Linked DNA regions of Homo sapiens. The protein of the gene in region 1 interacts with the protein of each later gene in a pairwise test. Each region holds a gene or a part of one and is shown on either strand. Other genes may lie near its edges.

Evidence for each region. The genes of interacting proteins can lie anywhere in the genome.
Region 2: the proteins of NAMPT (region 1) and ADORA2A interact in a two-hybrid assay, tested with the Homo sapiens proteins (one study listed by BioGRID and IntAct).

Annotation. Positions count from the first base shown.
Region 1 is NC_000007.14:106,281,515-106,289,774, forward strand, and holds the start of NAMPT (nicotinamide phosphoribosyltransferase precursor), read right to left. Parts: upstream 3,470-8,260; 5' UTR 3,371-3,469; coding exon 3,314-3,370; intron 1-3,313.
Region 2 is NC_000022.11:24,437,202-24,443,203, forward strand, and holds the end of ADORA2A (adenosine receptor A2a), read left to right. Parts: intron 1-1,075; exon of another isoform or gene 1,076-1,557; intron 1,558-2,092; exon of another isoform or gene 2,093-2,366; intron 2,367-3,381; coding exon 3,382-4,288; 3' UTR 4,289-5,156; downstream 5,157-6,002. UniProt on the Homo sapiens protein: Receptor for adenosine. The activity of this receptor is mediated by G proteins which activate adenylyl cyclase.

The DNA of each region.
Region 1 (8,260 bases):
GTTATGTTAGCTATATAATATCTAAGGGCAATCAGAAGAGGATACACTCTGCCCAACACTGGCTAAGACTTTCTGCTGCTTCAAAGCTAATGTGCTAGAAACAGCAAAAACCATAACCGATTCTTCTTTTCAGTATTATTTAAGATTTCTTAAACCCTGGAAATCTGTCTGTTGCCCCCAAAAATAATTCACTGCTATTTGGCTTTGAAGCAATACTCACTCATAAACATGACTTAAGGATTTTGGGTTATTTGGGGAAGGAGAGAAATTGCAAAATCACCTATAATCATATTGCCTCTTCCCTTAAAACCTCTTGCATGGAGTTTCTAATGACTTGTATCTCTTTTGCCACACCTTTAAACCAGATTTCATTAACTCACAACGAGAACACCAGCTCAATTATTAATGACCTAAATTAATCTCCCTATGAAGTATATTCATGATTTATATATTTTATTTATGGTGCTCAAGTTTTTCCTATATAACAAAACATAATGGAAAAATTGAAATATATGTACAATGTCACATATATCTTTATGAATGCATAGGCAGTCTCTGGGGTACAAGCTGCAACAGTACCCCACTCATGAGGCTCAGGTTGACTCAGGAGCCACCGTGACAATACCGAAGCATCCGCTCAGAAGCAGTGAAAGACAAGCAACAAAAATTTGTTACTTGGCCATTAGAGGAAGCAAAATTTTCTTTTTTTTTGAAAAAAAGCTGCCTTGAATTCCTAATCACCATATATAAATTTCACAGCTCTTTGAAACTTCTATAAAATCAACTTCTGTCCCTCCTGGATTTCAAAATACTACTTATCTTTGTCTTCTTTTATAATACCCAATAGGTCACCAACATTTATTAAATGAATGGTTAAAAATATGCTGAATTCTAGATAACCAGCTTACAGATGACCCTTTGAGAAGCAACCTACACCGGACAGCACATTTCATAACTAATGGATAATGCGGTTTAAACGGTGTCCTTACTTCTAACAAGAACCACGATGAAAATAGAGGAACCACAGTCGTCAGTGTCCTTAATTCCTTACTATATACAATAAAGTATGAGTTTACAGAAGTGAATGTATATACTTCAAATGCTCCTTTGGTCCAAATAGTTCTGGACTCTCTTGACAGGATACAAGACAAAACAAAACTCCCATTGTCATGTGCTTGCTACCATACCATCTACTTGCAAAATAACTTTCGTAGTGCTTAGGCAATCAATTATTCTTTCTTCAGTTTTAGAAAGAAGAAATCAACAATATTTTGCTCTCTTCATCAACACATCTGAAACTACTAGAGTTCCCAACTTTGGCCAATAGTTTGTAAGCACTGATAAGGATATGTAACATTCTCGTGTAATTTCTAAATAAGTTTCATTACTTCTAACCTCAAGATTATCATTTTTGTCCTTTTTCCTAAGATAAAAAGACAAAAATGTAAAATAGGTTATAAGGACCCCTAAAAACATAAGGGAAATGAAACCTAAGACTTAAATGTGACTGTGGAATACACAATCTATTTTAGCATACTGCGGTAAGCCACTGGTATAAAACATATCGACTTGATTGAACCCTCTAGAGGTGACTTTTGGGGAAAAAATGAAAAATCTAAGATGAAAATATTCTGAAGTTTCATATTATAAAGGATATAAAACACACCAGTCTGACTTGAAAGTTGACAGAAGTAAAATTTATTAAATAGGTGCAAATTCTAATAGTGCAATTAAGTATGGCTCACTAGATTAGAAACCTTTAAGATAATTCACTATTCTAACTAAAAGCACCCCAGAAAACTGATGTTAAAGTAATTTTACATTCCTTATGTATAATGGTTAGAGGAACTGCAAACTAAAGGAAGTTGCATTCTTCTGTTTTTAAAATTTAGACTATTCAACCTCCCTTTACATTTGGCTAACATGTAAAAAAAAAATCTGACAGTTATTTTAGATTTAGTTAAGAAAAAAATTCTACAAAACTATCAATGAGGCTATTCTAAAATCACTATTTAAAATTTTGAAAACACTATGATTGAACCAAGAGAACACAAGAGGAGGTTTTAGGACCAAGTAAAGGACCATACTTGAGGTATTATCACGTATACTTGACAATATTCAAGAATCATACTTGATAGTGTTCGGATTTTGCAATACTTTAAACTTGCATCTAAAAGACAACTTGTTGATGGATCTTGGCTCGATTTCAAGAACCTATCTAAATATCATAAACAGCATTTTAAGCTGATTGGAAAAAAACAGACAAAACTTAAGTAAAATGGAATTCTCTAAAATACTTTCTCGGAATATCGGAGGAGGGCTAAAAACAAAGGAAAAAAAAAGAATCAAAACAAAAACATGAGAGTACTATGTTTTACCACTGTATTCCAAACCACTATGCTGCTCAAGTAAAATTTACTTTACCTCTTCCCTTCACTACTGCGTGCTTCATATCAACTGAATGTGGCAGCTACCCACACAAGTGTTCAATGGGCATGTGAACGCAACGCTGTGCCATTTCCCTCTCCACATGTTCTCTAGGGTTAAAACTACAGTTCCTTTAAATCCTCGTGTTTCATTTTCCTTTTCACAGAAATCCTGTAATGACCCTAAAGCAGATAAGAGCAGAGCGGCCTCTACACCCAGGGATAAGGAGCACGAGCAATCACTAGGTGCCAAGGAGTTTGAAACGGAGCCCGGCGGAGTGGGACAGGGGAATCCACTACGGCTACCGGGGCCAGGCGAGTGTCCTCCGCGCCGGAGCCGCAGAGGACCGCGGCTGCTCCGGCGCCCGCGCCAGGACTTCTCCCACCTCGCGCCCCGGGAGACTTACCTGCCCAGCCAGGGGCGAGCGCGCCGGGCTGGCCCGGGGGAAAGCCCCGCTCACTCTCCACTGCGGGTCCCCGGGGCCGTTACCTAACTGGTCCCAGCTCCAGGCCAAGAGGCCGCGCTTCAGGGAAGGGCATGCGCTCGCCGGCGACGCCCAAGCCCCGAGCCCCGAGCCCCGAGCACCGGCGCCCGGGAGTCCGCTGGGGCCCGCCTCAGCCCCCCGCCGCGCCGCCGCCGCCGCGCGCCCCCAGGCCCCGCCTCCACCGCCCAGCCCTCCATCCTCCTCAAGCCACCTCCTGCCCACTGCGGCGCCTCCTCACCTGCCCCAGCCGCCGCCGCCCGCGCCTCCCCCGGGCCTCCCCGCGCCGCGACCCTAGCCCCAGCCCCAGCCCCAACCCCAGCCCCAGCCGCCCCCGCCCCCCTGCCGCGCGCTCGTCCCCAGCGCGCCCCGCTCCTCCTCATCTGCCCGGGCCCCGAGCTTTACCTTGTAGGAGTCGGTGGCCAGGAGGATGTTGAACTCGGCTTCTGCCGCAGGATTCATCTCGGGCCGGAGGACAGGGGCCGCGCGCCGCGAGCTCCCTGGCGCGGCTGCGAGGAAGGAGAAAAATGAGCTTCACCGCGCTCCGTTGCTTAAGTCACTGCTCGGTCGGCGGAGGAGGGGGAGAGGGGGAAACGGAGAGAGGGGAGGGGTCAGAGGAGGGCGGGCCCGGGAGCCGTGACGCGGCGCGGGTGACGGCTGCGGCGGCTCGCGTGCTCGCAGTCTGGGAGCTCTGGCGGACTCCCCACCTCGGTTCCCCCGCCTTCACCCCGTCACCCTCCGGGGGCCGAGAAAGGGCGGGGCGCGGCAGCGCGCTGCGCAGTGCGCGGAGGCGGGGCGGGGAGGAGGACGTGATGCACGCGCTCTTCCTCCCAGACGCCAGCTCTGGGAAGCTGGAGGCAGCGGGGCAGCCCCGGCGCGTGACCCGGGCGCTTACCTAAGTTCGAGTTCCCGGCACGGGCGCGGGAGGGCGGGGCCTGGAGGGGGCGTTCCCAGCTTTGCCAGTGCCACGAGGAGCCGGTTCGCCCGCCCCGCCTGGGACCTTCCGTCCTACCCAGTCCTGGCCGGTTTTCTGGGTCCTCCTGAAGTCACGCCACCCGGCTAGGGGGCGAGGAGCCTCCTACTGCCCATCTTCCCGTCCACCACGCGCAGTTACTCACCTTTGTCTCCGGCCTGGATTAAGGATCCAGCCTTTCGCCTCCATCCCTCTTGTCCCTCCTGATCCTCCTGACCCTGTCTTTAAGATCCCAGGAGCTGCGGTGAGGAGTGAGGCTGAGGGGCCCCTTTCATCTGATGCAGCGACTCCGCTTTCCTCCGGCGGCTCTGTCTATGGCTGAGCTCTTTGATCCTTTGAGAGATGGTTTGACTTTTCCCGAGCAAAGAGCCTGCGTTGAAAAGCGGGGGTGGAATTCAGTCCTCACAGATAATGAGGGGACAAGACCTAATTGAACCGAGTATTGCCGGGAAGGAAAAGGCAACGGGCCAAGCCTTTGACAGGGTGCGACACTGACTTTTATCATCGTTATAGTCTTTAAATCCTGGGAAACGAGTTGGCAACCCCAAAATAAAGAAGTGTAATGACGTCTGATGACTTCACCCAAATACAGACCATTCCAAGAAAGACTTGCGCAGTTCTCATGCGTGGTTGCGTTTTTGCATAAAACTAAGATTCCCTTTGTCCGCATGTTTAATAGCTTAAAAATAAATTGAGGTTTTTATCGGATAAAAGTAGCCAGGAAAAAGTGATACAGTGAAAACGATTACAGGATATTTATAGACTTGTCTTTCAAGTTATTAGAAGTCTCATTCTATCTGGGGGCAGTGATGGTGGTGGTGGTAGTGGAACTTGTGAATTGAGATTCATAGTGGAACTTGTGAATTGAGATTCATCTCGAAACTGGAGGCATGGCTGAGACTTCTAATAAAGACAACCTCAGTCAACACTATGTCTTGAAGTCAGTATATATTTTTGACAATCACCTCATCTACACGTAGATACAATACAGGGCAAAGATCATGGAAGTGGAAGGTATCACCAGGCACTCACCAATGTAGTAAATACTAGTACACTTACAATTATTTTCAGCAACGAGGTTTGAAACAAGAGGGCTTATGTATTTATTGGTTGATCTTCCCTGTGTTTTACCGGGGAAAATTATTTGTAAACGCATTTAAACAAATTATTATTTCTATTTTGAGACGGAGTCTCGCTCTGTCGCCCAGGCTGGAGTGCAGTGGCTGGATCTCGGCTCACTGCAAGCTCCGCCTCCCTGGTTCACGCCATCCTCCTGCCTCAGTCTCCCAAGCAGCTGGGACTACAGGCGCCCGCCACCACGCCCGGCTAATTTTTTGTATTTTTAGTAGAGATGGGGTTTCACCGTCTTAGCCAGGATGGTCTCGATCTCCTGACCTCGTGATCCTCCCGCCTCGGCCTCCCAAAGTGCTGGGATTACAGACGTGAGCCACCGCGCCCGGCCTAAACAAATTATTTTTTAATATTTGATTTTGGGAGTTTTTTTATATTATTTCAAGGAGTGCAATTCAAAGAAGGAAAAAGATAATTTTTGTCCTTAATTTGGTGTTTTTTCCTTCATTTAAAATTTATATAACCTACTTTACTTATAGTACAAATTCTTATTTGTTTAGCTTCCTGGAATTCATGTATCTATAAATGACCGTTGTTCTATGCTGCTTTATGCAGAAAAGAAAGTAGGATTCTGATTATAATGTGGGCTTTGTTTATGGTAGTATTTTTTTAAGATGCAAAATTTGATCTTGCAATCTTTGAGTTGAATTTGCAGTTTTAAAATAAAAAGGTCTTATATCTGTGCAAAGAAAAAATATTGTATTGACATTGCTTGTTAAATTAAGGAGTGAGGCCTGCACAAGTATTAGTAATGTGAATCCTCACAGTAGTCTCCAGAGAAAAAAAATGACAATGAAGTCATGTTACCAATAGGACAATCACCATTTGCCTGAGATAGAAATAGGCACATTCTCTATGTAACTACATGCTTAAGCTGGAGCAATTCAGAATTAATTGGGGTTTAGAACTATGAAATTATCACTGAAAACAGAGCCAAGATTTCATTTTAAAATGGCCTCCCCTGAAAGACAGTTTAACAGCTAGCATTAAGGTTGGACGTGGTGGCTCACACCTGTAATCCCAGCACTTTGGGAGGCTGAGGCGGGCTGATCACTTGAGCCCAGGATTTTGAGACCAGCCTGGGCAACATGGTGAAAACCCATCTCTACAAAAAATACAAAAATTAGCTGGACGTGGTGGCATGTGCCTGTAGTCCCAGCTTCTCTGAAAGGAGACTGACGTGGGAGGATTGCCTGAGCCCGGGGAGGTTGTAGCATGTAGAGGACCTGAGAAACTGTTTTTCATAGGTCACAACAACATGACAAATAATAACACATAGACTCAAATGGGCCCCCTCACTTGATTCAAAGCCCTGGATTATTATACCATCCTACCAAATAGCAATCAGGCACTGCCAATTGGGCATGCAGCTCCTTGTCTCCCTCCCTCAGAGTGCTATGAAAGACCTAGGGCTCATATATTTGTTCAGGCAAAGTGAGTGTATCTGTGCCACTCCTGTTGCCACACACCCTTGCAGACAGCCTCGGGTGCACCTTTATATTTCAAAGTTGCCTCAGATACTCCAATCTGACCTGATTTGACCTCAGTAAAAAACACTGGTGAAGTAGGTATGGAACTCACCTACCTGCAACCCCTGACGATGGTCTTATCCATCTCCCTTTATAATCTCCTCTAGACTCGCCAATTAGCAACAGTTGTCACAAAGACAAATGTGAAAAAGAGAGCTTTTAAAAATTAAACTTGGACTTTTTTTCTTATTCAAACTTCCAAGGCCCTTTGGGAACCTCCCAGAGTTTTAATTTCCTAGGGAAAGGCCTCATCCACAGAAAGACACGGTCTTCACAGATTCAATGATTTATCAGTGTTACACTCTGTAATGACTCAGTCGGCTAAGCCTGTACAATCACACAAAGAGAGGCACAGGAAACTATGGAGTCCTCGTCTAAATGTACAAAAATGATAGAGCAACTGTCATCCACACACAGTAAGAATGAGTGCACATATATAGACTATCCACAGACATTCCATTGCAAAATGTAATTATGCCCTTTCTATGGTGTCTTTGTGGTCTGACTGTGCTGCACTCTCCTAACCGGCAATGCTGAGTCGATCATCTATCTGACTTGAAACTGTCTTCAAATTTCACACAGGACGTCTATCGCAATCTATGTTTGCTGCATGGCAAGTCTCGATTTTCCCGTCTCTATTAGTTGTGTTTTTGTTTTCCATTATATTCAAGCATACATTTTTCTAATTCCAACCAAATTCAATGGGAAATAAAGATAAACAAAAATAAAAGGTTTAAATTCACCTTTAAAAGTAAGGTAAACATGCACATTATGATGCCACATGTGGGGATTCCAATGTCATCATTACTTACAAATTTTGCTAATGGCCCAAATTTAAGAGTTGCTAGCCCATATCAATGACTGAGAGAATAAGACCGTTTGAAGTATATAGGAATGTCAAGAGCTTTGAAATCAGTGTTTTCCTAAGTGAGGTCTGCTTATCATTGATGTACATGAAATAACTATCAATGGTACTAAGATACATGTTTTTGTCTTTAATAATTATGTACTTATCTTAAATGAGTTTTGTTTTGTTTGTTTTTTGAGATGGAGTCTCGCTCTATCACCCAGGCTGGAGTGCTGTGGTCCGATCTCAGCTCACTGCAACCTCTACTTCTCAGGTTCAAGTGATTCTCGTGCCTCAGTCTCTTGAGTAGCTGGGACTACAGGCATGTACCACTATGCTTGGCTAACTTTTATATTTTTAGTAGAGAAGGGGTTTCACCATGCTGGCCAGGCTGGTCTTGAACTCTTGACCTCAAGTGATCTGCCCACCTTGGCCTCCCAAAATGCTAGGATTACAGGCATAAGCCACTGCCTTTGGCCTCTAATGAGTATTTAAAAATGTAACTAGCACATAAAACCTGATTTTTTGTGGGAGGGGTATTATTACTTAGGATGAAGCTGAAGGAGGTGGGCACTCAGACTGGTGAACTTTCTATTTCTTTTTCTTACCTTTCCCTAACCTATATGCTGTTTTCACATCCTCCATATAAGACTGGTTTTCTTGAGGAAGCTGAACATGAAAGGCTATATGTCTGATTCCATTTATTTGAAATTCTGGAAAGGGCAAAGTTATAATGAAAGAGAGCAGATCAGTGGTTGTCAGAGACTGGGATTATGAGAAGCAGAATGACTGCAAGCAGGTCTGAGGAAACTTCTTGGGGTGATGAGAATGATATATGTGGTTATACGACTGTATACATTTGTCAAAATTCA
Region 2 (6,002 bases), on another chromosome or scaffold:
GGGGGACACAGAGCTGCAGAGGGCACCTCCACAAAGGGTGGGCAGCAGCTCTGGGACCCACATTCTCTGACATGCCTGGGCACCCCAGAGTGGTGGTGTGTCACGCTAGACAGCCTTGGCATCCCTTCCAGCTGGATGGTCAATGTTTGGGGTCTAAGACGGCAAGATGTGAGTGTGTTGGTCACAGATGCAGCCCAGGATATGCTGCTGGGCCTGGCTGAGGCTCAGCTGTGATTCCATTTGGGCCCTGATGCTGTCCCCACCCCGTGGGCACCAGGGTCCAGGGCTCTCAGCCTATGGAGATTTCTTTTGAATAAACTTAGTCTATTTGCAATTTAAGAAAAAAAAAAGTCATGTTTTGCCCACTCTAAAACATTAAAAAGGAACAAAAGAGTATAGTATAGTAGAAAGTTGTCCTCCATACCCCCTGTCCCCCACCCTCAGTTCCCTGCCTGCAAGGCCATGTTAAGAATCCTTCCAGAGATATTCTTTGCATATATAAGCAAGTGCTATTAATGTATGTTTTGTTTCTGTCCCCACACGGGACTTTCTTTGCAGAGTACGGTGGAAGACTCCCCTTGTGGGTTCCCTTTTCTGTACAAGTCAACAATTGGACAGACCAGGGATTTCCATACTGTGTTCCCAGAAGCCTTCGGGTTGGCTCTGGTGTCCCCACCAATTCACTGATTCAATAAACATTTAATAAGCCCCTTCCCTTCCCCAGCAGCTTCACCTCTGTGACTGCCTGGGAATGTGGGCGACAAGGTTTGCTGCTGAGAACAGTTTGAAAACCAGCAAAGCAGGTGGCCCAGGGCCCAGGCAGCTCTGCAACACCCCTGTGGCTGCTTGGCTCTGCTCTGTTGCCTCAAATGACAGGAAACTCACTATTGCCTGAGGCAGGCCATCTCTCCTGTGAACAGCTCAGCTGAAAAACTCTTAACCTACCCTGAGTTACAATCTGCCTCCCTATAATTTCCACCCACTGATTCTCCATTCTGCCCTTAGAGGGCAGAGTGCTGACAGGTCCACGACTTGGTCCCATTTTACAAATGAAGAAACTGAGGCTCAGAGAGACAAAGTTTTAAAACATTCCTGTTAACAGGGCCAGAACCCAGGAAGGGATATGCTTTTCTCAGGAATAATGTCAAAATTAATATAGCTTCCCAGTCAATGAGGACTATATAAATTACTATTTGCAAAGCACTAAGAACAGTGTCCGGCACAGAGTCAGTGCTATGTAATGTAGATGTGAGAATGAGAGAGCCTGAGATTTTATGTTTGCGAGTCCCACAGGAGGCAGGGCAATGCCAACTCCCTGTTGCTTGGAAGCAATGGGCAAGTCTATGACCCTCCTGTTGAGGCCCTGTTACAGGTAACCAAGCCCCCACGGAATGGAGCTGAGGAGCTCCTGAGAATGGGCTTGTCCGGTTACTGTTTGGATTCAGAACTGACCTAAGAGATTCAGAACAGACAGACTCGCCTTGGCCTGAGTTGCCTCTGGGCTCTTGGAATGTCCACAGCAAGTCCATTCCTCTCCTTGGGCCTCAATTTACCCACCTGTAAAACAAGAGGATTGGACCACATAAGAGATCGGAAGCCACCAGGGTTTCTCTTTTTCTCTTTTATTTGAATTAGTTGACAAAACTTAAATCTTGGGAGATTTTACCCAGAAAATCATCTCCCCAGCCCCACCTGAGATCTGGTAATAGCAGGCGTACGTTTTGCATGGCGCTGAAGACCAGGTAAACGCCCCACCAGCTGCCTCCTGTGTGTGCTACCTATAGGCGCCTGTTTGCTACCCGTGAATGAGATGGTTTCTGTGGATGTTCCCAGCTCCGCAGTTAAGTAGAGCACATCCTTCCCCTTGCACCTTTTTTTTTTTTTTTTTTTTTTTTTTTTTGGAGACTGAGTCTTGCTCTGTCTCCCAGGCTGGAGTGCAGTGGCGCGATCTTGGCTCACTGCAAGCTCTGCCTCCTGGGTTCACACCATTCTCCTGCCTGTCTCCCAAGTAGCTGGGATTACAGGCCCCCGCCACCACGGCCGGCTAGTTTTTTTTATTTTTAGTAGAGACAAGGTTTCTCCATCTCCTGACCTCGTGATCCGCCTGCCTCGGCCTCCCAAAGTGCTGGGATTACAGGTGTGAGCCACTGCGCCCGGCCTCCTTGCACCTTCTGAGTGTCCCTGTCTCGGAGCTGGCAATGCAGAGATGGATGTAGGAAAGCCCTGCCCCCGAGGGGCCCAGATGTGGTGGGGATCTGCTGCACTTCGGTAGGAAACTTCTTTGAGATCTCTATCCTGGACTTGAAGGATGGGTAGGGTTTCTGCCAGGTAGAGGGGAGTGTAGTCTGGTCTTGCCAGAATCAAAACTGTTAAACAGAAGTCATCCCTCAGTGATCATCAAGGTTGCCTTCCTAAATTAGGGAGACTTTTTTTTTTTATTGTCCATTCTTTCATGAAATCTAGGCCACCTTTCCTACAGGGCTGAGGTCTGCTTACTGGCTGGCAGATCCAGCCATTTCCCGAGTATGAGACTGGGAGTCGGTAGGCTTGGATTTCTGTCTGGCTCTCACTCAGGAAGACTGAGTGATTTCGGGCAGATTACTGTCCCCCTGGACCTCAGTATTTCCTTGCAAATGTTAAGATGGCCATGTAAATGTTAACAAGTAATTCTCTCATTTCTCTCCAGAGGGCTGTGGGTGGGTTTGGAGGGGAGAAATGGCATCTCCTTTGGCCTGGGACCTCCTCCCCTCTTTTACCCTCCATGCTGCCTCTCCTCAAGGGCTTCTGGAGTCCCCAAGTCAAATGGCAAATGGGGAAGAGAAGACAGGGTATGGAGTACAAGAGGCCTAGATCCTCTATAGGTCTGATCTGGCTGGTGCTGCCCCTAGCCAGTAAAGCCACCCTCCAGACCCCTTCAAGCCTGTTGTAGCCTTAACCAAGATCAACCAACATGGAGGTGACTGATCTTGGTTAAGGCTGCGACCAACATGGAGGTAATTGATCTTGGTTAAGGCTACGACACGTTTCCCTTTAGAGAAAAATCATGTTTTCCCCCTCAAAAAATCATGCGTTAATTTCCTCCAACCAAACTAAGTCCCAGGACTACTCCGAAAACTACTCAATGACCATCTGGGCATTTGTACATGGGTTTCCATTTCTTGGATGCCTGCTCTCCTGTTACCTCCCAGAAGCCTGTGAAAAAGGCAAGGCATATTACTTCCACTTAACGGAAGAGGATGCTGGGGCGAGGTGGCAGGAAATGACTGGTCCAAGACCTTACAGTCAGGAAATGTGGAAACGGGTGCTGCTCTGGGGTTCTGAACTCTTGGCCCTGCTTAACCCTGGCTTCTCAGATCTCTGATGCTGGTCTCTTCTCCCCAGGTACAATGGCTTGGTGACCGGCACGAGGGCTAAGGGCATCATTGCCATCTGCTGGGTGCTGTCGTTTGCCATCGGCCTGACTCCCATGCTAGGTTGGAACAACTGCGGTCAGCCAAAGGAGGGCAAGAACCACTCCCAGGGCTGCGGGGAGGGCCAAGTGGCCTGTCTCTTTGAGGATGTGGTCCCCATGAACTACATGGTGTACTTCAACTTCTTTGCCTGTGTGCTGGTGCCCCTGCTGCTCATGCTGGGTGTCTATTTGCGGATCTTCCTGGCGGCGCGACGACAGCTGAAGCAGATGGAGAGCCAGCCTCTGCCGGGGGAGCGGGCACGGTCCACACTGCAGAAGGAGGTCCATGCTGCCAAGTCACTGGCCATCATTGTGGGGCTCTTTGCCCTCTGCTGGCTGCCCCTACACATCATCAACTGCTTCACTTTCTTCTGCCCCGACTGCAGCCACGCCCCTCTCTGGCTCATGTACCTGGCCATCGTCCTCTCCCACACCAATTCGGTTGTGAATCCCTTCATCTACGCCTACCGTATCCGCGAGTTCCGCCAGACCTTCCGCAAGATCATTCGCAGCCACGTCCTGAGGCAGCAAGAACCTTTCAAGGCAGCTGGCACCAGTGCCCGGGTCTTGGCAGCTCATGGCAGTGACGGAGAGCAGGTCAGCCTCCGTCTCAACGGCCACCCGCCAGGAGTGTGGGCCAACGGCAGTGCTCCCCACCCTGAGCGGAGGCCCAATGGCTATGCCCTGGGGCTGGTGAGTGGAGGGAGTGCCCAAGAGTCCCAGGGGAACACGGGCCTCCCAGACGTGGAGCTCCTTAGCCATGAGCTCAAGGGAGTGTGCCCAGAGCCCCCTGGCCTAGATGACCCCCTGGCCCAGGATGGAGCAGGAGTGTCCTGATGATTCATGGAGTTTGCCCCTTCCTAAGGGAAGGAGATCTTTATCTTTCTGGTTGGCTTGACCAGTCACGTTGGGAGAAGAGAGAGAGTGCCAGGAGACCCTGAGGGCAGCCGGTTCCTACTTTGGACTGAGAGAAGGGAGCCCCAGGCTGGAGCAGCATGAGGCCCAGCAAGAAGGGCTTGGGTTCTGAGGAAGCAGATGTTTCATGCTGTGAGGCCTTGCACCAGGTGGGGGCCACAGCACCAGCAGCATCTTTGCTGGGCAGGGCCCAGCCCTCCACTGCAGAAGCATCTGGAAGCACCACCTTGTCTCCACAGAGCAGCTTGGGCACAGCAGACTGGCCTGGCCCTGAGACTGGGGAGTGGCTCCAACAGCCTCCTGCCACCCACACACCACTCTCCCTAGACTCTCCTAGGGTTCAGGAGCTGCTGGGCCCAGAGGTGACATTTGACTTTTTTCCAGGAAAAATGTAAGTGTGAGGAAACCCTTTTTATTTTATTACCTTTCACTCTCTGGCTGCTGGGTCTGCCGTCGGTCCTGCTGCTAACCTGGCACCAGAGCCTCTGCCCGGGGAGCCTCAGGCAGTCCTCTCCTGCTGTCACAGCTGCCATCCACTTCTCAGTCCCAGGGCCATCTCTTGGAGTGACAAAGCTGGGATCAAGGACAGGGAGTTGTAACAGAGCAGTGCCAGAGCATGGGCCCAGGTCCCAGGGGAGAGGTTGGGGCTGGCAGGCCACTGGCATGTGCTGAGTAGCGCAGAGCTACCCAGTGAGAGGCCTTGTCTAACTGCCTTTCCTTCTAAAGGGAATGTTTTTTTCTGAGATAAAATAAAAACGAGCCACATCGTGTTTTAAGCTTGTCCAAATGAGAATGGCGTCTGAGTTCGTTTCCTACTCCATAGCTAGGCCTGTGCACACATACAGGCATGTGTTGTGTATGAGAGAGTGTGTGCGTATGTGCAGACACCCTGCCTGCCCCGGGGGCCCTCCCCAGGGTCCTGTCCTCGAGGGGACAGGCTGCCTGGCTGCACCACAATCCAACCTGCATTTCTATGAGGGCCCACAGGGGCTATGGGAGAAGGGGCTTTCCCCAGCAACTCCCCCCCTCCTTATCTTCCTACATCTTTAAGGGAAGATCTCTTTGTATGTTACCTTCTCAGAACTGTGACCCGCCACCTGCCCTGCTGCACCCTTTAGCAGAGGTCACAGAGGTATCCGCAAACAGATCTGGGCAGGGGCTACACGGCCTTCCCCTAGAATCCCCCTCCTTCTGTTCTTAACAAAAGAAACCCAGAAGGAAGGGGTGTTTTTGCTCTGACCCCGGCCTTAGGGGCCTCCTGCCTGAGGAGGTGGTGCCATCTTTCTGTGATGGCGAAGTTTGAGGCCTGGAAGGCAGTTAGCAACCTGCCCCTGCCTGAGGTTGGTGGAGAGCTGTGATTGTCCCGGTTTGGTCTCACTCACTCTGGGACTCCCGGAAGGAGTGTAAGAATGTCAAGGGTAATCCTCACACAGCCCTGTGAGCCCTGTTTTACAGATGATTAACAAGCCCAGAGAGGTTACATGATTGCTCCAGGTCACACAGCTAGTAAGTGGCAGAAGTGAACTTAAAACTCAGGTCTGTCTGACTGTAAAATCCATGTTCATTGTTTCCATTAACTTAATGATGAACTATTTGAACCGAACCAAAAAGTACAAAATAACATCATTTCCTCAGC